Linked DNA regions of Homo sapiens: region 1 is linked to region 2. The links come from fine-mapping of genetic effects on gene expression. A gene starts in region 2. The other region holds a variant in brackets. All regions are shown on one strand. Distances are between the middles of the regions.

Region 1 (10,935 bases), 44 kb after region 2:
TCTGATTAGGCAGGGACCTTAGCCAAAGCAGAATGAGACCATACAAAGAGGTGGGCAGCCATCATCCAAAAATCTGGGTTGGGTCCTGCCTGCACTGCTGAGTGGGAGCCTCCAGGCCAGTCCTTCCCCTTCCTGAGCCTGGGTTTCTTTGTAGGTAGAACGGGCGTGGCAGACCTCCCTGCAGGCTTGTTGCTGGGCGAACGAGAAGGATGCCATGCTGACACACTGACGTGCTCTGTCTCCTTGCAGACGGAGGCCCGGGAGCCATGGGTGACTGGGGCTTCCTGGAGAAGTTGCTGGACCAGGTCCAGGAGCACTCGACCGTGGTGGGTAAGATCTGGCTGACGGTGCTCTTCATCTTCCGCATCCTCATCCTGGGCCTGGCCGGCGAGTCAGTGTGGGGTGACGAGCAATCAGATTTCGAGTGTAACACGGCCCAGCCAGGCTGCACCAACGTCTGCTATGACCAGGCCTTCCCCATCTCCCACATCCGCTACTGGGTGCTGCAGTTCCTCTTCGTCAGCACACCCACCCTGGTCTACCTGGGCCATGTCATTTACCTGTCTCGGCGAGAAGAGCGGCTGCGGCAGAAGGAGGGGGAGCTGCGGGCACTGCCGGCCAAGGACCCACAGGTGGAGCGGGCGCTGGCGGCCGTAGAGCGTCAGATGGCCAAGATCTCGGTGGCAGAAGATGGTCGCCTGCGCATCCGCGGAGCACTGATGGGCACCTATGTCGCCAGTGTGCTCTGCAAGAGTGTGCTAGAGGCAGGCTTCCTCTATGGCCAGTGGCGCCTGTACGGCTGGACCATGGAGCCCGTGTTTGTGTGCCAGCGAGCACCCTGCCCCTACCTCGTGGACTGCTTTGTCTCTCGCCCCACGGAGAAGACCATCTTCATCATCTTCATGTTGGTGGTTGGACTCATCTCCCTGGTGCTTAACCTGCTGGAGTTGGTGCACCTGCTGTGTCGCTGCCTCAGCCGGGGGATGAGGGCACGGCAAGGCCAAGACGCACCCCCGACCCAGGGCACCTCCTCAGACCCTTACACGGACCAGGTCTTCTTCTACCTCCCCGTGGGCCAGGGGCCCTCATCCCCACCATGCCCCACCTACAATGGGCTCTCATCCAGTGAGCAGAACTGGGCCAACCTGACCACAGAGGAGAGGCTGGCGTCTTCCAGGCCCCCTCTCTTCCTGGACCCACCCCCTCAGAATGGCCAAAAACCCCCAAGTCGTCCCAGCAGCTCTGCTTCTAAGAAGCAGTATGTATAGAGGCCTGTGGCTTATGTCACCCAACAGAGGGGTCCTGAGAAGTCTGGCTGCCTGGGATGCCCCCTGCCCCCTCCTGGAAGGCTCTGCAGAGATGACTGGGCTGGGGAAGCAGGTGCTTGCTGGCCATGGAGCCTCATTGCAAGTTGTTCTTGAACACCTGAGGCCTTCCTGGTGCCCACCAGGCACTACGGCTTCCTCTCCAGAATGTGGCTTTGCCTGAGCACAGACAGAGTCAGCATGGAATGCTCTTGGCCAAGGGTACTGGGGGCCCTCTGGCCTTTTGCAGCTGATCCAGAGGAACCCAGAGCCAACTTACCCCAACCTCACCCTATGGAACAGTCACCTGTGCGCAGGTTGTCCTCAAACCCTCTCCTCACAGGAAAAGGCGGATTGAGGCTGCTGGGTCAGCCTTGATCGCACAGACAGAGCTTGTGCCGGATTTGGCCCTGTCAAGGGGACTGGTGCCTTGTTTTCATCACTCCTTCCTAGTTCTACTGTTCAAGCTTCTGAAATAAACAGGACTTGATCACAAGTAGGTGTGTATTGATGCTATCATGATGTGCTGGGGGTTGGGGGATAGAGTTATTTTGCCCAGGCTTCCTTTACTTCTTGGTCCTGTATAATCTCTTTGGTCTCTATAACCCCCGATTCCAGCCAACACCTTGAACCCTCAAACTCATACCTTCTGCCTCCAACAGCCCTGATTTCTAAATGCTCTGCCTTTTGAAATGCCTCAGACACTATCTTCTTTTCATCCCCACTGCTCCAGCGCATTAATCAGTGGTCAAAGCATAAACGTCCTTGCCCTCCCTCCCCCATGCCCATCGTCGCCCTGGCCACACTGCCCCCTGCAAAGTGCTTCCTTACTGGATGGTTTGCTCTCCAAGCGTGCCTGCCAGCCAAGCCCTTCGCAGTCCAGTTCAGATGGGCCCTGCACTCATCCCACCTCATCCTCATCCTTGGTATTTGGGAAGGGAGGTTTAGGTCACTAGTCCTTCCTACCTTGGCCCTTTCTAGTCTGCCCACCAGGAGAAGCAACTGAAGGATTTGCTTCATATCTGCTCTCCATGCACCCAGACCTCAGTGAGGACAATGGCAATGTACAGAAGTGGAAGAGACTGAATCTTGCCAATGAGCCACAAAGGCTGCAGAAACAAAATGAACAATTGAACTGGGTCTTGACTAGGAGTTCACTGGGGAGGGAAAGAGAACACTGAGCATTCAAGCGGAGAAAACTGTTTGTGCAAAGTCAGAGGAGGGATTGACAGGCTGAGGGGGCATTTAGGTCCTGATGAGCCACCTAGATACAGGAGGCGTGGCTGAGGATGGGCCCACTGCTGGCAGAATTGACCTATGTGGAGGCGACCCAGGTAGGGGAGAGCACTAGGTAGTGACCCTCAGAGGCAAGCTGGTTGTCCTCCCTTCCCAGGGACATCTGGGGCTAGGGTTGAAGAAGGAAAGGGGGTCTCTCTGATGTGGCCACATGCTTCTCCTTGAGAGCCACAATGCCTTCACAGCAGGTTGGCAAGTTGGCCCCTCTCCCATCAGGATGGGTGTTGAAAACACCAGCTCTGTACCCCTCATCCAGAGCTCATTCGCTCACTCGCTGCTTACCCAGCGAGTCTGAATGCTCAGCCTAATAAATTACGACCCTCTTCCTTTTCCAGCTGTGGTTCCCATTGTTCCCTCTGAATCGCTGAAATCGATCAGGCCAGCTTCCTCATGGCTCCCAGATTCACCCAGTATGTTCCCACCCTGCCCCTGTGTCAGCATGCAGCGTCCCTGCCCCCCACACTTCGAAACTCCACAAATCCTTTAAATACTACTGGACCCTGGAAAAGGGCTTGGTGCGGAAGAGTGAGATGAGCTTATCACCAGAGGGCCCTGAATTTAAATGCTGTGGTCTGGAGTCAATCATTTCGCTTCTCTGAGTCTCAGTTTTCTAACCTCTAAAATGCAAATAACATCACCTGCCTCACAACTGACTGGAAACCAAATAAGTGAAAGTATGTGACTGTGCCTGGCTCAGTAGTCATGCAGTAAAATTAAGCTCACACCTTTCAGCCAGACTAACATAGGCTCTTCCTCCAGGAAGCGCTCTCTGACTTCTCCAGCTAGTCTCCGGCAATGACCTCTACCTCTCAGGGATCTGAACCACTGCTTGATTGAGTGAGGCTGGGCTCAATCCTGAAAGCCTCAAAAAGGAGGCTGTTCACATACTGGAAGTCCATGACCACTGGAAGTTGAGGTCCCTGTCTAAGAGATTCTCCTCCAGCCAGGGTGAGAGGCCAGAGGCTGCAGGTTAGAAGCCAGCGTTAGAGCCAGCATTACCTGAGGGGCTTCAGAGCCCTGGTTTGGTGTTTCTGTTATCCCCAACCTTTCCTACTTTGGAAAGGTAGGAGAAGAAAGGTTTCAGTGAGCAGAAATGGCATCCTTCCCCTCCCTCAAAGCTCACCCACTCTGAGCTTGGTGTCAGAGCCGGGGTCAGGCTGGGGCTCAGGAACTTGGACCTTTGGCAAGACAAGTTGGGTCCTAGACTGGCGGCCACACAAACACAAGCACATATGGGCTGGGGGTTTAAGAGTGAGGACAGTGTCATGGGGCTGGGATCACACCATTTGGGTTGGGGGTATGGTGAAGACTTTATGGAGAGAAGAGTGGCTGTAAGCCCCATCCCACCTGTATTCCCTTGCCAAGGCTACTGTACCAAAGTACCACAGACTGCACGGCTTAAGCAACAGAAACTGATTCTCAGTTCTGAAGGCCAGAAGTCTGAGATCGAGATATCCGAAGGGCTGGTTCCTTCCGAGGGCTGTGAGGGAGACTGTTCCAGGCCTCTCTCCCAGCTCTGGTGTTTTGCTGGCAATCTTTGGCACTCCTTGGCTTTTAGACGCATCACTCCCATCTCTGCCTTCATCTTCACCTGGTGTTCTCCCTTTACCTGTGTCTCTGTGTCTAAATTTCCCCTCTTTATAAGGACATCACTCATATTGGATTAGGACCCACCCTAATGACTTTGATCTAACTTGATTACCTCTGAAAAGACCTTATTTCCACATAAGGTTACATTCTGAGGCATTAGGGGTTAAAACTTCAATATATCTGGCAGGAGGCACCATTCAACCCATACCACCACCCTCGTGGCCCCACCTCACCTCCAAGCACTGGTCAGGCACGGGGCTCTGGAGAATGCTAGGTTTGTTGGACGCAGGCATCTCCTTGGTGATGTCACTAGGATGAAACAC[G/A]GCAGGTTCACACCTTTCTTTTCCTTTGTTTCCTTCTTCCTCTCACCAGCCTATCCCTTGCTGCCACCAACCAAAATCTAAGTTGACAGCTAGTGGCTCTCAGTTAGAGAAAGAGCCATCGTTTGGAGTTAGGAGACTTGGCTCCTACCTCACACCTCTCATACGCACTTGACTATGGCTCTTTCCCTTCTCTAGGCCTCAATTTCCCCATTGTGAAATGAAAGGGTTGGATGAGAAACACGTATGTGACAATTAGGTATGAGGAGCGTTGCGTGTGGTAACCTGTCACTGATCATTGATCTGAAACTCATGAGTGATGTGCTATTTCGCATGAATCAGAAAAAAGTCAAGGTTGTTTCTACAATAAGATTAATTCCAGTCGCTTAAATTCACATTGCCTTCCTAAGTAGGAAAGACAGGGATGGGGTTATGTGGAGTGCACTGGGAATTTTGCATAACCCAAGGTCATCTTATCTATGACGGATGGGAGCATGAGAACATCACGGGCTGCACATAAACAAGGCTGTCAAGCTGGGTGATGTCAAAACTTCTTCCCAGTCTAACATGCTGGCTCACTGGCCACTGGCTTGCCAGCCTCATGGTTCTATCACCTCCAGTTCCTTGACTGGGGATTCTTCGTTTTCACACCAACCTCAGCATGACTATTGACGTTTGCAGGAAGAGGTATCCATCACAGGATTGTCAGAACATCTCTCTCCACCTTTAAGAATCTCTCTCCAGACTTGGCTCTGATCCCAGAGCCACAGGACACCCAGTTCTGTCCTTCCCAAACAGTACTGCAGCCACATACAGACAGCCACCAGGTTCAGCCTGAGCCTGCTCTCCTCCTATTCCTCCAGATAATCCTGATTTCCAGAAGTCTCTGGCCAACCTGCAATTTGTTTACTTTCCTCTTTTTTTTTTTTTTTTTTTTTTTTTGAGACGAAGTCTCCCTCTGTTGCCCAGGCTGGAGTGCAGTGGCAGGATCTTGGCTCACTGTAATCTCTGCCTCCTGGGTTCAAGCAATTCTTGTGCCTCAGCCTCCCCAGTAGCTAGGATTACAGGTGTGAACCACCACGCCTGGCTAATTTTTGTATTTTTAGTAGAGATGGGGTTTCACCATGTTGACTAGGCTGGTCTCAAACTCCTGACCTCAGGTGATCCACCTGCCTCGGCCTCCCAAAGTGCTGGGATTACAGGCGTGAGCCACCATGCCTGGCCTAATTTCCTCTTAACATATGCCACCCTCCCTGTATGCTGGATACGACACTCCAGTTGGTCCGAATCCAGATTATTGCCTCTCTTGCCCCAAAACTTCTACCTCTCTTAATGCAACCTAAGATTATAATTTTTTTTATTTTCTCCTCCTTTACATATATATAAATTCTTTTGAATTATAAAGATAATGCATGATCATTGTAGACAGTGAATGAGATCCTACCATCCAGAGGCAACAACTGTTAATATTCAGAAGTAATTCCCTCCAGCCTTCTTCCATGCATATTTTAAAATAAAATCTTAGTAAAGATATACCTACAATTTTATATTATGCTTTTTTCATTTTATGATAAATCATTAGTTTTTTCCCATGTCGTTAAGAACATATTTTTGGAAATACCACTTAAAGGCTTTATCAGTGCCTACTTAAACCATGACCCTGATATTGGATTTTTAGGATGTTTGCAACTAATCATCCTCTACTATAAATGGTACTGTGATGCAGATGTCTGTACCTAAATGTTTTCCAAATTTCTATTTCCTTAAAAGAAAAAGATATTCCAAGAAGTAAAATTACTGGGTCACAAAGTAGGAAATCTTAAATAAAGAAAATTTAGGGGCTTTTATCTGATTGTGAAAGTGATTCATTGTGGGTGACTCAGAAACACAGAAAAGCACAAATTACAAGAAATGAAAGCACAAACTGCCTCTGAGTGGGAATTGGGGTGGAGCTGAAAACAGGAGAGTTCATTGAAAGCACCTCGGCCTGGGGATTCCATCCCTGCACTGAGCAGCTAGGTGACCACATCTTCCCAACTCTGTGAAGAGGTGGAGGTTTATTCTCTGGAGAGGATAAAACAGAGAAATGCAGCCAGGTGCAGTGGCTCACGCCTGTAATCCCAGGCGGGAGGCGGAGGCGGGCGGATGTCTTGAGGTCAGGAGTTCGAGACCAGCCTGGCCAACATGGCGAAACCCCATCTCCACTAAAAATAGAAAAACTAGCCAGGTGTGGTGGTGTGCACCTGTATTCCCAGCTACTCGCACTCCAGCCTGGGTAACAGAGCGAGACCCTGTCTCAAAAAAAAAAAAAAAAAAAAATCGAGAAATGCCAGGCATAATTGAGGGTAGGAGCACCATAAATAAAACAGAGGAATTAAGTGGAAGTTTACATACTGAACAGTGGGTCCTTCTGCCTTCTCCCCAAAATTGGCTTCCAAAACACTGGCTGATGGATCAGGCTTTGAAAAAAAAAAAGAGAGAGAGAATCTGATCTAGCCTGAGGTCATAGAAGCCTGCCTGCAGGAGGTGGGCTTCAGAAAGCCTAAAACGTGAGAAGGAATGAGCTAGGAAGAGATGGGGAAGAGCATTCCAGGTAGACGGAATAGCACTTTCAAGGCTCTGAAGAAGGAGGAAGGGGCTTGATATATTTGTTGTTCAGGGTTGTTTTTGATACAGACTGCCAAGCTGCTTTCCAGAAAAAAAAATTACTTATTCGTTCAATAGCATTGTATGAAAGTGCTCATTTCAAGGTATGCATACAAGCATTATTGTAATTTTTAAATTGCTTTGCCTATTATTAATTATTAAACAGGGAAAAAATGGTATCACGTTTCATGAGGGAGGCCTGATTACTAGTGAGTGTAGACTTCTATGTGTGTGTGTGTGTGTGGCAGGTCTTACTCTGTTTCCCAGACTGGAGTGCCGTGGTACAATCTCAACTCACTACAACCTCCATCTCCCAGGCTTAAGCAATTCTTGTGCCTCAGCATCCCTAGTAGCTGGGATTACAGGTGCGTGCCACCATGCCGGGCTAATTTTTGCATTTTCTTGTAGAGATGGGGTTTCACCATGTAGCCTAGGCTGGTCTCAAACTCCTGGACTCAAGCAATCCACCCGCCTCGGCCTCCCAAAGTGCTGGGATTACAGGCATAAGCCACCATGCCTGGCTAGTGAGGGTAGATTTTTTAACGTATACTTCTTCAGCACTTATGTTTGTTCTATGAATGTTTTTTGCCCATTTTTCTATCAGGTTTTACTATTTTCTGATCAACTTGTATAAACTCTTTATAGGTAGAGGATATCAACCCTTCATCTGGCATATGTTATAAAAATTTTTCTGTATTATTTTGTTCCTTTGTCTGCAGATATTTTTAATTTCTATGTAGTCAAATTTATGGACTTTTTTCCTTTCCAGTAACTTTAGGCTTACACTGTTATCCCCTTTTCAATATTATTTTTAATTTTATACTTTAACCTGGCTTGAACATAATAGGAGAAAAATAATTATTGAACAAAAGACAAAGCATGAACAAACAACCTAATTTTAGCATATAAGGTGAAGTGCTAACTTTTCCCCCCAAATAATCAATGGTTTTGGCAGCACTTATTGGATAATCCTTCCTATACTAATTTGTGATAACAGCTTCACTATACTATATGTAACAGACTACATTTTATAGACTACCTATAATTCTGTTCCATTAATCTGTCAATTTATGTGATACTACCACTCTTTTCATTAGTGTAGCTTTCTAACACAATCTTTTCGGGGTTTGGTTTGGTTTGGTTTGGTTTGGTTTGGTTTGGTTTGGTTTGGTTTGGTTTGGTTTGGTTTGGTTTGGTTTGGTTTGGTTTGGTTTGGTTTGGTTTGGTTTGGTTTGGTTTGGTTTGGTTTGGTTTGGTTTGGTTTGGTTTGGTTTGGTTTGGTTTGGTTTGGTTTGGTTTGGTTTGGTTTGGTTTGGTTTGGTTTGGTTTGGTTTGGTTTGGTTTCGAGATAGGATCTAGCTCTGTTGCCCAGGCTGGAGTGCAGTGGTGCGATCTTGGCTCACTGCAGTCTCCACCTCCTGTACTCAAGCCATCCTCCCACCTCAACCTCCCCAGTAGCTGGAACCACAGGCACACACCACTATGCATGGCTAATTTTTGTATTTTTGTGTGGAGACGGGGGTCTCACTATGCTGCCCAGGCTGGTCTCGAACAACTGAGCTCAAGCAATCACCCATCTCGGCCTCCCAAAGTGCTGGGATTACAGGCATGAGCCACCACACCCTGCATGTAATACAGTTTTAGTATCTGGTAGAATCCATTTCCCTTTTGTTACTTATACTTTTCTTGAGAATCCTGGAAGCCAGGTATGTATTTTCTATGCAAGTGTTTGGAAGAGTGTTGCCAGTGGATCTGACAGATCCAAAGGAAAAAACCTAAAGATATGGGCACCAGGGGCTGTCCAAGGAAATAGACAGCTAGATGGCCACACAATGAAAATCACAGTAAGGAAGTCCTAATCATGCATACAGATCGTCCAAACAGCTTTTTTTTTCTCCATTAAGTTGGGTTTTTATTTGCCTACTGCAATGGTTAGAGTGTCCAAAACAAATGTTTTGTTTGTATTTGTTGAACAGAGTTTATCTTCTAAATATTCAAAAATACTCTTCTAGAATATTTTTAGGTTCACAGCAAAACTGAGCAGAAGATAAAGAGATTTTCCTTATATCCTCTGCCCACTTCCCACATGCACAGCCTCCTCACTGTCAACATCCCCCACCAGAGAGGTACATTTGTTACACTTGATGAACCTACATTGATACATCATTATCACCCAAAGTCCACAGTTTACAGTAGGGTTCTCTTTTGGTCAGACAGCGTTTTAGTGACCCTCTTTTAAATATGAGCACATGGGTGAGGATCCCAGGCATTTGAGAAAACCATCTTATATGAAAGAGTCTAAAATAATCAGAATAAAGCTTTCCAGAGAAAAGAGAGATTATGCATGGAGAATAAAATATTTTTAAAACTAATATTACTTTATTCAGAAAGATTTTATCACATCTTTCTGATATGATAAAGAGGGTATTGCAGCCATGAAATAAGACAATACTCTAAGAAACAGCTACATAGAGAACAACAATGACAAAACCAAGGTATTGGAAAGTAAAAGTATGACAGCAGAATTGAAAACTTCAATAGAAAGGCTGGAAGATAGTTAAGCAATTCCCCAGAAACTAGAATAAAATACAAAGATACAAACAGTAGAAAATATAAAAAATGATTTGAGGACAAGTCCAGAAGGTCTAACGGAAGCTTCGGAAAAGAGGAGTAGAAAAAATAGGAATGTAAATAATCAAAGGAAATTCAATAATCTCTAGATTGAGAGAGCCACTGAGTGCCCAGCCCAATGGATGAGTATAGGTCCACTCTACTGAAAACTTTCAGAACGCCAGAGACAAAGAGATGAGCCTACAAGTTTCCAGAGAAGAACATAGTTTCACACATAGGCTCAAGAATCGGAGTGACCTCAGACTTTGCAGTAACAATACTGGAAGCTACAAGACAGTGGAACAATGCCTTCAAAATCCTGAGGAAAACAATTTTCAATGTGGAATCCTATACTCAGGCCTGCAATCATTTTAATAGCATAATTCCTTGAAAGTTTGGATACGTTACTTGCCTGTAAAGCCAACTGGATTCAGTGTCTTTCTTATATGTCATTCTTCAAAAACTTTTTCACTGTCTTCAGCAACTAGTTATCTATTCAAATTCTCTTTGTCATAAATCTCTCTTAGTAATTTAGACTTCTTCACAAAAAAAAATGCTTATTTGAATTAAGTATTCAGGCATCCTTATCTCATCACACCACATATTCTCATTTTAATTAAATTTTTACCAAAAGCTCTAAGTAAAATTGTTCCTTGACATCTGTGTATGCCATGTGAAGATGTTTTATAACTAAGGTTATGCTAGTTTTATAGTAAATTGGAAATATTTCCAACTAAAATCCCTGAGCCTTTTATAAGTGGGATGCCACTAAGCTATTACTAAATATGAGTTTATGTAATTGGGAATTTGGGCAATGAAAGTGACAAATATGACATCTGTACCAATTAAATGCCATCATATCCACTTCAGCTCATTGATCCAACTAACAAGAACTATCCTCTTAAACCTGGATTTTGTCAACCAGAATATCGGCCACTCTGGTTTTGATAAATCAGGCTTATCCTTCATCTGATAAATCTAAGAAGCTTAATGCAATTAAGTGGCATTCCCTGGTGGAGATTATGCTTATTCCTGGGTTTGAGGTCTTTGTTAAGTGAACAATACTGTTTCTAAAAGACTATATCCCTTGCTCCACCCAACCCCACAGAATGGGAAATAGAAAAGCAAAGCATCACAGAAGGCTGAGGTTAGGAGGCCTGATTATCTAG
Region 2 (10,935 bases):
TGCAAATGACAGATACCTAAATTAAACAGGCTAAAACAAAAGGATAATGCAGTGGTTTATGTGCATGCAGGAAAGAAAACATTATGGCTGGGCTCCAAAGATAGATCAAGCCAGGGATTCCAGTGCCTTCCAAGCACTCGCTTGCTTATCTTTTGTTTCTGCTTCCCTTTCTGCATCAGAATCATTGTCTCACTCAGCAAAGCAGCTTTGTCAAACAGCAGGCTGCCAGCAATTCCGGAGCCTCACTTCTCACTATGTCTATCATCAGATGGACACTCTCCCTATCCAATGTTCAAAAGTCCCAGGGAAGACCCCTTGGTAGATGAGCGTGGGTTAAGTTGTCACACTGGACCAATCAACTGAGCAAGATAAGTATGACTGATTAGCTCAACTGGGGGCCAGTCCCACCTCTGAGCCAATCAACACTCAATGAGCGAAGATGCGGCTGGTTAGAGTGAAGATAGGCGAATTCCCCAGGAAATGAGATCGCTTCTCTGTTCAAACAAGAGATGTCTTAGTTTGGGCTCTCCCAAAAGCCAAGCCTGAGACAGGATTTGCATGCAAGTTGTTTATTTGGGAGGCCATCCGAGGAAACATCAGCATGGGAATGGGCAGTGAGTCAGAGAAGGGAAGAAAGCTAATGAAGGGTGTTTAATTGAGTGAGTTACCTCCATGGGCAACGGAGCTTAATCCTGCTGGGGACTGCTGGGAAACAGTAGAAAACGACTTCACAGTCATCTCAATCAAAGGCTGAGGAGGCTGGAGAATTTATACCCTAACTTCTATCAGTCACTGGTTGAGGGCTTTTCCCAGTGGGGCATCAGTTCACTAGCACTTCCAGCCTACCTCATATGTAGGCAGAGGCCCAGAAGCCCAGAGAGCCCCAGGCAGAGTGGCAGGTGCTGGCCATTGGACACTGGTCCTGCCTGCTGTAAATCATTGTGCTGTACTAGGTCCTCTTAACCACCGAAAAGGAGTATGCCAAGAGGATCTGGGGCAGATACTGATAGCACCTGCTACGTGTACTGACCACTTGATGGAACCAGATTTAAAATGCAGAGCTGTCTGGTTACTTTCAGTAAGTCCTGTGGTGCCCACACTGGACCATGACTCAGCAGAGATTCTGAGCATCCAGGCAAGAGCCCAACAGGAAGGTCCTTGGCCTTGGAACTCTTGTTAGCAAGGGGAAATGTGGCAGCCAGTGGCCAAAGCTTCAAGAACTGCTCATGAGCCCTCAATCCTCTAAAAGAGAGGCCCCAAATGGAACTGAGACAACCCGCCCAGAGACGGCAAAACACTGTGTTATTGAGACCAATGATTCAGCTTTAGTGTGGGCCGGGCTGGAGGGACGAGGATACCTAGAAGCATTGGGCCCCAGTCTCAGGAATGGTGAGCCTCTCCATGACCCAGCTCATGCAGAGCCTCAGAAATCGTAGGGAGAGACCAAGGGGCACATCCCAGTTTCAGCCTCCTCGGACTGAGCTTGGAAGCATGGGTAGAGCTGGTGGAGTAGGTCTAGAGGCCTAGGAAAGGAGGCACATCATAGGGGAAGAGCATGACCATTCGTCCCAGAGGAAAAGCAAATGTCCACCCAACAGGTCAGAGAGCAACAGCCCACAGAGTGGAAGAAAATGAATGTGTGAGACATGCCAGCTGTAAATCACCATGTTTATATACATCCTCTCAAGCACTCCTCACAACAGCACCACCCGACCCCTTCCACATTCGAAAGAAAGGAAACTAAGGCTCAGAGAGAAAAAATGAGTTGACCAAGGCCACATAGTTAGGGAGCAGAAATGGGGTTTGAGCCCAGGTCTGTGTGGATTCTGCCCATCACACAACTCTTTCCCTGTTTTCCAGGTTTGCCTGTTCTCTGTCATGCCCACCTTCCACCCTTCCCACCTCCAGCTCCCTCCTGGATTTCCAGCATCCCCTGAGTCCCATCCCTCAGTAAAAGAACAGCCATGAAGCCTCCATTGAAACCTCTCACTTGATAATAAGCCCACTTTCATGATAACAAACCCACTCCCATGATAACGATGTTAATCCAACTAACCTAATTACCTCTTAAAGTCCCACCTCCCAACACTGTTGCATTGGGGGTTAAGTTTCAATACATGAGAGCATTGGGGGACACATTCCAAGCATAGCAGGGGGAGTGAGTGGGAAAAGTGGTGCATAGGTTCATCACAGATGTGTTTGGAGTTAATGAGTTCAGTGCTACGTGTGCTGAGTAAGAGCCACATGAACTATCCAGGGTCACGAGGTGGCAGCAATAGTTGGAGTCCTCAGCCCCAAGCTGGTGGTAGGAGCCACAGCCTGTGGAGAGTGCACTGAGAGAAGAGAATCCAGGAGAGCTCTGGAGAGTGCTGGCATTTTAGGAAGCAGGCAGAGGGTTACTGGCAGAGGAGAAAGCTCCAGGCCTCAATTTAAATCTTACACTTTCAGAAAGGCTTTCCCTGCTTCCTGAAACTAGGTCTGGTTCTCCATTATACATTTTCTTGGCACTGTGCTTCTCCTTTGTGACTCTATCACAATTGCATTTTTAGAGTTATTGGTGTGTGTGTGTGTGTGTGTGTGTGTGTGTGTGTGTGTGTGTTTAATGTCTTATTTCCTCCTTTGACTGTAATCTTCAAGAGGACCAGGCCCAGAGGTTGAACCATGAGAACCATGCTTACTGATTTATTTCCACTATCAGGCGCAACACGTGGCACATAGTAGGTGCTTAATGAATATTTGACGATGAGTAAATGATTCTGTTTATCAAGCATAAAGGAGCCGACAGTGTTGCCAAATCCTTGGGTATGAAGATGTTGAAGCATTACGGTGTTAAAAGCACTGGCTCTGGAGCTCAGCTACCTGAATTCCACCCCCAGCTCTCCTGATTACTGATTGTGCAAGCCCAGGCAAGTTTCTTAGCCTCTCTGGGCCTCAGTTTTCCCATCTGGAACATGGAGCCATTGGAGTTCCTACCTCATAGGGTTATTTCTATCAGTGGCCCAATCACCTATCAAATCACCAAAACCAGTGACCTATGAACCATCCTAGGTCAGCCTCCTGCCTCACATCCTACATCCAGTCAGTCCCCCAAGTCAGTCCCCCAAAGCTGCCAGCTGTATTTACCAGCTATTTCCCAAATCCAACCCTCTTGCTCATTTCTTGCCTAAATCATTGCAGTAACTTTCATACCGGTCTCACAAGCCCCTCCAGCCTCTTTTCTCAAACAGAGGAAGCTTTCTAAACATACAGTTGATCTTCATTATTCACAGATTCCGTATTGTGCATTCTCCAGCTCACCACAATTTATTCCTAAGCCAAAATCTACACTTAAGACACTTTCATGGCCATTTATAACATGCACAGAGTGGCAAAAATTTGAGTCTCCCAATGCACGTGTTCCCAGCTGTGGCTGAACAAGGTGACATTCTGCCTTCCCCTTTCAGCTCTAATGCTATAAACATGTTCTATTGGAGGTCTACTTGGTGCCATGTTTTTCTCATTTCTTGCTTTTTGCTGGGGATTTGCTGTTTGAAATGGCCCCGAGTACAGTGCTGAAGTGCCATCTAGTGTTTCTAAGCACACGAAGGCTACGATGAGCCTTATGGAAAAAATATGTGTGTTAGACAAGCTTCATTCAGTCATGAGTTATAGTGGTGTTGGCTATGAGTCCAATATTAATGAGTCAACAATATATATTAAACAAGGTGTCTTCAGAAACACACATAAAACAGACTTCTGTATTGATCAGTTGATAACCACATTGTAAACAGAAGCTTGCAGGAACCTAACCTCATATGTCCTCTAGGAAGAATGCTTCAATATTCACTAACTTGGTGCTCATGGTGACTCATAGACTATAACTACCTTGAATAATGAGAATCAAATGTACCAATCTGACCATGTCTCTTCCTTTTTCCTGCCTCAGCACAATACAAAATGTAAAAATAGAAAAAAGAAAAGAATTCCCTCATGCCTCCCTCTGCACCCAAGATAAATTCAAACTCCTTAGCATGACATTCCAGGTCCTTCATGGTCTGGAAGGTCTTTGCTGACCTTCCAGGCTCCTTGCCATGTGGTGTCCCCACCACTACCCAGCCCACTCTCCAATGCTCTTCCATTATTTTTCACAAAGGTCCTCTGCACGCTATGTGCCCACTGCCTCAAAGGCCCCTCCTCAGCATCTCTTCTTGGTAAACTCCTATACATCCTTCAAGACCCAGCTTAAATGTTACCTTCTCCGGCTCTCCCTCTGGCAGAACTTAAAACTCCCTTCTCTCTCTGTGTCTTTTCTAGGACTTCTCACAATGTTGTAACTGATCTCTTTATATGCCTCCTCTCTCCTGTACTTGGCAACAGCTTTTTGGAAAGAGCATGGAGTATAGAAATGTGTGACTCTCTGCAGGGTGTGTGCATTTCACACATCATTCATTCAATAAATATAAATTGAAGCCTAACTGGACAAGACACCAGGCACCATACTAGGCACAAGGGATAGAGCAGTGAATAAAATAAAGCCACTGCTGCATGTGTGTGCAACACTGTGCCCATAATTGTGGCCTGTGTGTAAGAGTATGCTCATGTGAAGCTACATTGTGTTTGCTTGTGGACATGAGGTGTTTGTGGCTCCTGGATGCTTTGTCTGTTGAATCCTGACCCCAAGTGACCTGCTGATACAGGGCACCTTGGAAGTCAATTAGGCCAAAAGACCGTGTCTGTGCACTAATGAGAAGCTTTCCCCAGGTGCCCCTGCCCACCTTCTCCACCTCTCCTGTGGTTCCTGCCTGGCTTGGGTTTGGCCTTTTTAACCCAAAGACAACATGCATCCAAATGAGATTTTCTCTAGTGCATACGTCTCTCTCTCCCTCCCTTCTCCTCTGCCTTCCCTGTATCTCAGAAAGAAAAGGCCTAGGAATAAGGAAAAGGAGGAGGAAGAAACATTTTTTTGAGGACATACCATGCGGCAGGCCTGTGCTGGGCAGTATACACGCATTATAGGCAATTGTAGACAGGGCTTCCCTTGTGTCAGGCACTGTTCTAAGCACTTCACCCCTAAGGCTGGGTTAATCCACGTATCCACCCTATGAGGTAGGTGTTGTTCTTTTCCCACTTTCACAGAGAAGGCAAGAAATCACACAGTGAGAAAGTGGCAGAGCTGGGATTCAGGCCTCAGCTTCTCCCACACAAGCCCACAGATGGGAGGATGAACAAGGAGTCAGAGTGGACCTGTGGCTCTCCCCTGAGAGGATACCAGGATTCGAGGCTCAGCGCCCTGGGAGGAGTGAACCCCTCAGTTTCCTGAGCCTCATCAGAAGCAGTCTGGGGAGGCTGGGGCCCAGCCAATGGCAGTGCAGGTCCCAGCTCCTCCTCCTCCCAGGCTGGGCCAGCACACCCGGCAGGCTCTGTCCTGGAAACAGGCTTCAACGGGCTTCCCCGAAAACCTTCCCCGCTTCTGGATATGAAATTCAAGCTGCTTGCTGAGTCCTATTGCCGGCTGCTGGGAGCCAGGAGAGCCCTGAGGAGTAGTCACTCAGGTAAGGGCATCTGTGTCCGCATGTGCCCTGCCCCTTGGCATACGTGGCAGGAGGACACTTCTCTGCTGGGGAGTGGTGGGATGTGGCCTGGACACATCTGCCACCCTGGGTCCTGATGGTGGAGGAATAAGGGGCTCTGGGTTCTTTCAGGTCTCCCCAGCCGGGCAAAGGTAGGAGCAGGGGCCAGGCCGGAAGCTCAGCAGGCAGGGTAGCTCTGCCTGGGCCTGCAAAGCCCTGCCCCACTCCTCCCCAAGTAGGGATGGGCTGGGTGAGAGCCCCTGGGGCTAAGGGCGGGGCCTTCCTGGGTGTTCCCTGAGAAGCTGCAGGAGTCCTACCTTAGACAGGACTGAGCATGCAAGATGGTGATTCAAAACAGAGCTCCCCCCAACCCCGGCCCCCACCTCCACCCATCCCCCGTCCAAGTGGCGCAGGTGGTGTGGAGACAGGGTGGTGGGCAAAGGTTCCCCCAGCCACCCTCATCCAGGATCCACACACAAGGGGAAGGACAGAATCCGTCTGCACACAAACAGGCAGGCAGCTCATTGAAACTTGAGGAAAGGGTCTGAGGCCTAAGGCTGGGCAGTTCCCGGAGGGTGGGCTCTAGAGCCAGCCTGCCTGGGTTCAAATCCTAGCTCTGCCACTTATTAGCTGTGTGACGTTGAGCAAGTTAATTAATCCCTCTGTGTTCCTCTTTCCTCATCTGTAAATTGGGAATAAAAAATATGCCCTTTCCTAAGGTTGCTGTGAAGGAATAATGTACTGATTCATACAAAGAACTTAGAGCGGTGCCTGGCACGGCATGAATGCTTCATGGATATTGGCTGTTATCACTACTCTGCTTTGCAGTTGATCATGCAGAGGCTCCAGAGAGCCTGGTGAGCTTCAGCCTGGACCAGCATGGGAAGGCCATCATGAGCCCTTTAGTGGCTAGGCAGACAGGTTCCTTGGGGTCCCAGGGTGCACAGTTGGTTGAAACCACAGTGCATGGGTCTTAATGGACACACCCCCATCTCCAGGAATCAGGCAGAGGACTCGCGGGTGAGGAAGTGGGGACCCCTTACTCTGCCTAGCAGTCACAGTCCTTACGCGGAGGTGAATCTGATTCTGTGAGTTCATCAGGCCAAATTCACCAGCAGAACTGACAGGAGCAGCATTTCCCACTTGATGTCTTGACAAGGCTGTTCCACAAGATGATAAATGTTATGTCAGGAGGAAAAGGGCTTCTGTGGGCAAATGAGTTTGGGCAATGCCACATATTTCATACCTCTTTTGGTGAATTTATTAGTGAGTTTATTAGCACGGTTGAGCAAAAGAACCCTATTTAACTTTACTAAACCCAATGTTTGCCAACTTTTCTTGACACAGAATCCTCTTCTCTCACTTCTCCTATTGCCAACCTATGGGACAGGGTTCCAGGGAACACTGTTTGGGAAACACTGGAATACCAGGTTACTCTAGGAAACCTACTGTATGAAGAGAATTTATTGCTGCCTGCTTTAGCTTTCAGCTGGATTGCATTGAGTGGCACTTGAGCAGGACTCTGCCTGGCTAATTACAGAGTGTTAGACCAGATGGGGGCTTGGGGACAAGGTTCCAGCCTCCTTTCCAGTCCCATCCCTGAGCCAAGAAAAGGACAAAGAGCAGGTTCCCCTGGGGAAGGGGCTGTCTGAGAAGAGGCAGCAGTGCTCAGAAAGGAGAGAACCATCTCAAGGCTCAGCCCCCCTGAGGAGGAGGGCCAGGGTTGAAACAGAGGGAGCAGGCAGAATGTCCCAGCTCCACCAGTCTTCACTCTGCAGAACCTCAAGACCAGAGCCTCAGGCCCGGGGAGGAATGAGTGGCTCCCTGGACCTGCCCTTATCCACTGGTATTGGTAAGAGCTGGGTTCTGGACTTAATTACCTATGCTCAAATCCCAGCCCTGCACCTAATAGTTGTGTAACCTTGTATATAATGCCACTAAACCTCAGCTCCCTCCCTCTACAAAATGGGGACAGTAGTAGAACCCAGCTCCTCTAGTGATGGTAAGGATGAAATGTGATGACATATTTCTACAAAGTGCTCAGAGCAAGTCTGTGATAAATGTAGGAAATGATTGTTCTTGTTTCCCTGCAGTAGCAGCTGACGCGTGGGTCCACCATGAACTGGAGTATCTTTGAGGGACTCCTGAGTGGGGTCAACAAGTACTCCACAGCCTTTGGGCGCATCTGGCTGTCTCTGGTCTTCATCTTCCGCGTGCTGGTGTACCTGGTGACGGCCGAGCGTGTGTGGAGTGATGACCACAAGGACTTCGACTGCAATACTCGCCAGCCCGGCTGCTCCAACGTCTGCTTTGATGAGTTCTTCCCTGTGTCCCATGTGCGCCTCTGGGCCCTGCAGCTTATCCTGGTGACATGCCCCTCACTGCTCGTGGTCATGCACGTGGCCTACCGGGAGGTTCAGGAGAAGAGGCACCGAGAAGCCCATGGGGAGAACAGTGGGCGCCTCTACCTGAACCCCGGCAAGAAGCGGGGTGGGCTCTGGTGGACATATGTCTGCAGCCTAGTGTTCAAGGCGAGCGTGGACATCGCCTTTCTCTATGTGTTCCACTCATTCTACCCCAAATATATCCTCCCTCCTGTGGTCAAGTGCCACGCAGATCCATGTCCCAATATAGTGGACTGCTTCATCTCCAAGCCCTCAGAGAAGAACATTTTCACCCTCTTCATGGTGGCCACAGCTGCCATCTGCATCCTGCTCAACCTCGTGGAGCTCATCTACCTGGTGAGCAAGAGATGCCACGAGTGCCTGGCAGCAAGGAAAGCTCAAGCCATGTGCACAGGTCATCACCCCCACGGTACCACCTCTTCCTGCAAACAAGACGACCTCCTTTCGGGTGACCTCATCTTTCTGGGCTCAGACAGTCATCCTCCTCTCTTACCAGACCGCCCCCGAGACCATGTGAAGAAAACCATCTTGTGAGGGGCTGCCTGGACTGGTCTGGCAGGTTGGGCCTGGATGGGGAGGCTCTAGCATCTCTCATAGGTGCAACCTGAGAGTGGGGGAGCTAAGCCATGAGGTAGGGGCAGGCAAGAGAGAGGATTCAGACGCTCTGGGAGCCAGTTCCTAGTCCTCAACTCCAGCCACCTGCCCCAGCTCGACGGCACTGGGCCAGTTCCCCCTCTGCTCTGCAGCTCGGTTTCCTTTTCTAGAATGGAAATAGTGAGGGCCAATGCCCAGGGTTGGAGGGAGGAGGGCGTTCATAGAAGAACACACATGCGGGCACCTTCATCGTGTGTGGCCCACTGTCAGAACTTAATAAAAGTCAACTCATTTGCTGGTTCCAGGTGCCCTCTGGTTGTGCGGCCTTCGTGACCCTCACACGTTCATGGTGTCAATCTCTCTGCCCCCGTGAAGAGCTGCACTTGATCCAGCCTGTGAGGGGCATCCTCTCTTCCAGAAAGGGGGCCCCCAGTACTCCAGGGGACGTGCTACTTGCTCATGCTCCCATCTAGCCTTTATCCCCCATGGCAAGTTTAGTCCTGTGGGTTGTCTGCAGAGAGAATGGAGCTTAGTCCATGTTGCAGTGGGAAGTTCATGAACTTAGAATGCCTGTGTCGAATCCAAGTTCCACCGGGACTCTGGGAAAGTAACTTAAGCTTCTCTCCAAAATGGGTTAATAATACCTAGCCTGTGGGGTTGTGCTGAGGACTGATGAGCTCATGGCTGTGGACAGGGCTAGCCAGCTGTAAAAGGACACATAAATGTTAATCATTGGTATTAGGAAGTGCTTGATAATGCCTGTGAGAAACGAGGCAGAAGGCCCCTCCCTAGCTGCACATTAACCTTCATCATCCCAGCCAGAACACAGGTCCCAGGCCCCCCACCAGCATATGTGAGGTCACACTCCAGCCTCCCTGGAGGCCTTCCCCAGGACCCACAGAGGATGGACAGCGATGCTGTGCCTGGCCCTGTGCTAACTGGGGCATTTCATGCTGCTGACCTGCATTCCTTGCCTCCACCAAGGCTATGGGTGCCCTGGTCTAGAAAAGTCATAGTTGACCCCTCCCATTTCCTACACAATCCAAGAGCTTCCAGACTCCAGTCCCAGAAATATCCCACCACCAGAATGGGATGCGTTCCTGCACTAAATTAAGGTTGCCCCTTTCCGTAGATGTCAGCTGCTGAGACCTCAGTATCAGGCTTCCCAGGAAAAGGGCAGGAGAGAGGGCAAGGAGGCAGGGTAAGGAGGCAATGGGAAGGGGACAGGGTCAATCCCACTGGTGCTGTCCTAGGCCTAGGCATAATGATATCAGGCTCCTGAACCCCACACAGCAGTCTCACCCACATACCTGCCTGCCTGGGAGCCAGGCTCAGCCATACCCAGCCAGGCTAGAGAGGAGGCGTGGGCCAGGAGAGAAGAGCCGCAGGTGTTTGCTCTGAGTATGTGCCCGGGGAAGTCCGCCCTCCTGCCTGCCCACCCAATCACTCTCGCTTGGCTCATTGGCCCAGAAAGCCCCACCCAGCAAGGGAGAGAGGAACAAAAGCTGCCTCCGGGAGGTCCTGAGGCAAACAGACAAGCCCAAGGACAAGGAAGCAGCTACTGGACCCAAGAAGGGTGAGGACCGAATAGGGCAGGAGGCTGGCCAGGAAGCAAGCAACCAGCTGAGCTGAGGATATCCAAGGGACCTCAGGCTGTGGGCTGGGCTTCAGGGAGGGAGCCAGAGGGTCAGTGTCCCTAGAGGATCCCCAGGGAAGTGCCAAGGAGGAGAAGGAATGTCCTGGCTGACCTAAGGGACGACAGAAGATTGGGGAAGAGGGGGTATCAGGAAGAAATGGGTTTCAGTTCAGTTTAACAAACATCTATTGTGTGTTCACTGGGCCAGGCCAGTGCTAGGTGCTAGGGAGACAGAGGTGAAGAGCCTGCCCTCTAGCAGCTGACAGCCTGGCAAAAAAATAAGACAGGTAAATAGACCATTTGGGTACAGGCGATGCCTCTTGCTCTGAAAGTGTCCCAGGCACACGATGTCTGAAGAGGCTGAGAGCAGAGTCAGGGATTGGGGATGGGGAAGGAGGAGGGTAGGAGGAGGGGAGGGTTGGACATGGGGCCTGATGGGGACTCCAGACAAGGGGGTGTGGAGGTCAGAGTCCACAGGAGAGGGGCCTGAGAGGAAATAATGGAAATGCGGCTAGCAAACAGCCACTAAATGGACAGAGGAGGGGGTGCCCCCAGAGAAAGTAAATGGGGGGTCCAGACCATGCCAGAATCCATCCTCAGTCCTTCCTAAAGCTGGAATGGTTGGAATTCCAGAGGAACCCACTGTGGTCAAGACAGTCAGCCCTCAGGCCCCAGCACCAGTACACGGGTTGGCAGGGATGATATCAAGTCCCCGTGATTCCAAAGCACCTCTGTTTAGTTTGGGAGGGAA

Which allele goes with the higher level. Alleles are on the strand shown, and positions count from the first base shown. SD is a standard deviation of normalised expression in the study named.
With allele A in place of G in region 1, the expression in testis of the gene that starts at base 5,383 in region 2 is higher (moderate effect, 0.69 SD a copy in GTEx).

Evidence for each region. PIP is the estimated chance that this variant, and not a neighbour inherited with it, causes the effect.
Region 1: its variant is fine-mapped to the expression of GJB5 in testis (GTEx, PIP 0.99). The same link has a PIP of 0.9 or more in fibroblasts.

What each region holds. Positions count from the first base shown.
Region 1 is chr1:34,793,948-34,804,882 of GRCh38, forward strand. GJA4 (gap junction protein alpha 4) reads left to right here. Exons shown (of 2, transcript NM_002060.3): 2 at 250-1,800. The coding sequence starts at 267. The coding sequence ends at 1,268. Among named protein-coding and RNA genes, the nearest start is that of GJA4, 6.4 kb to the left of the region's middle. RefSeq lists a silencer at 315-469 and an enhancer at 6,338-6,387. The variant G/A (reference allele first, on the strand shown) is at 4,514.
Region 2 is chr1:34,749,665-34,760,599 of GRCh38, forward strand. GJB5 (gap junction protein beta 5) reads left to right here and starts at 5,383. Exons shown (of 2, transcript NM_005268.4): 1 at 5,383-5,531; 2 at 7,643-8,848. The coding sequence starts at 7,667. The coding sequence ends at 8,488. It overlaps GJB4 (gap junction protein beta 4), which reads left to right and starts at 10,076. Exons shown (of 2, transcript NM_153212.3): 1 at 10,076-10,124.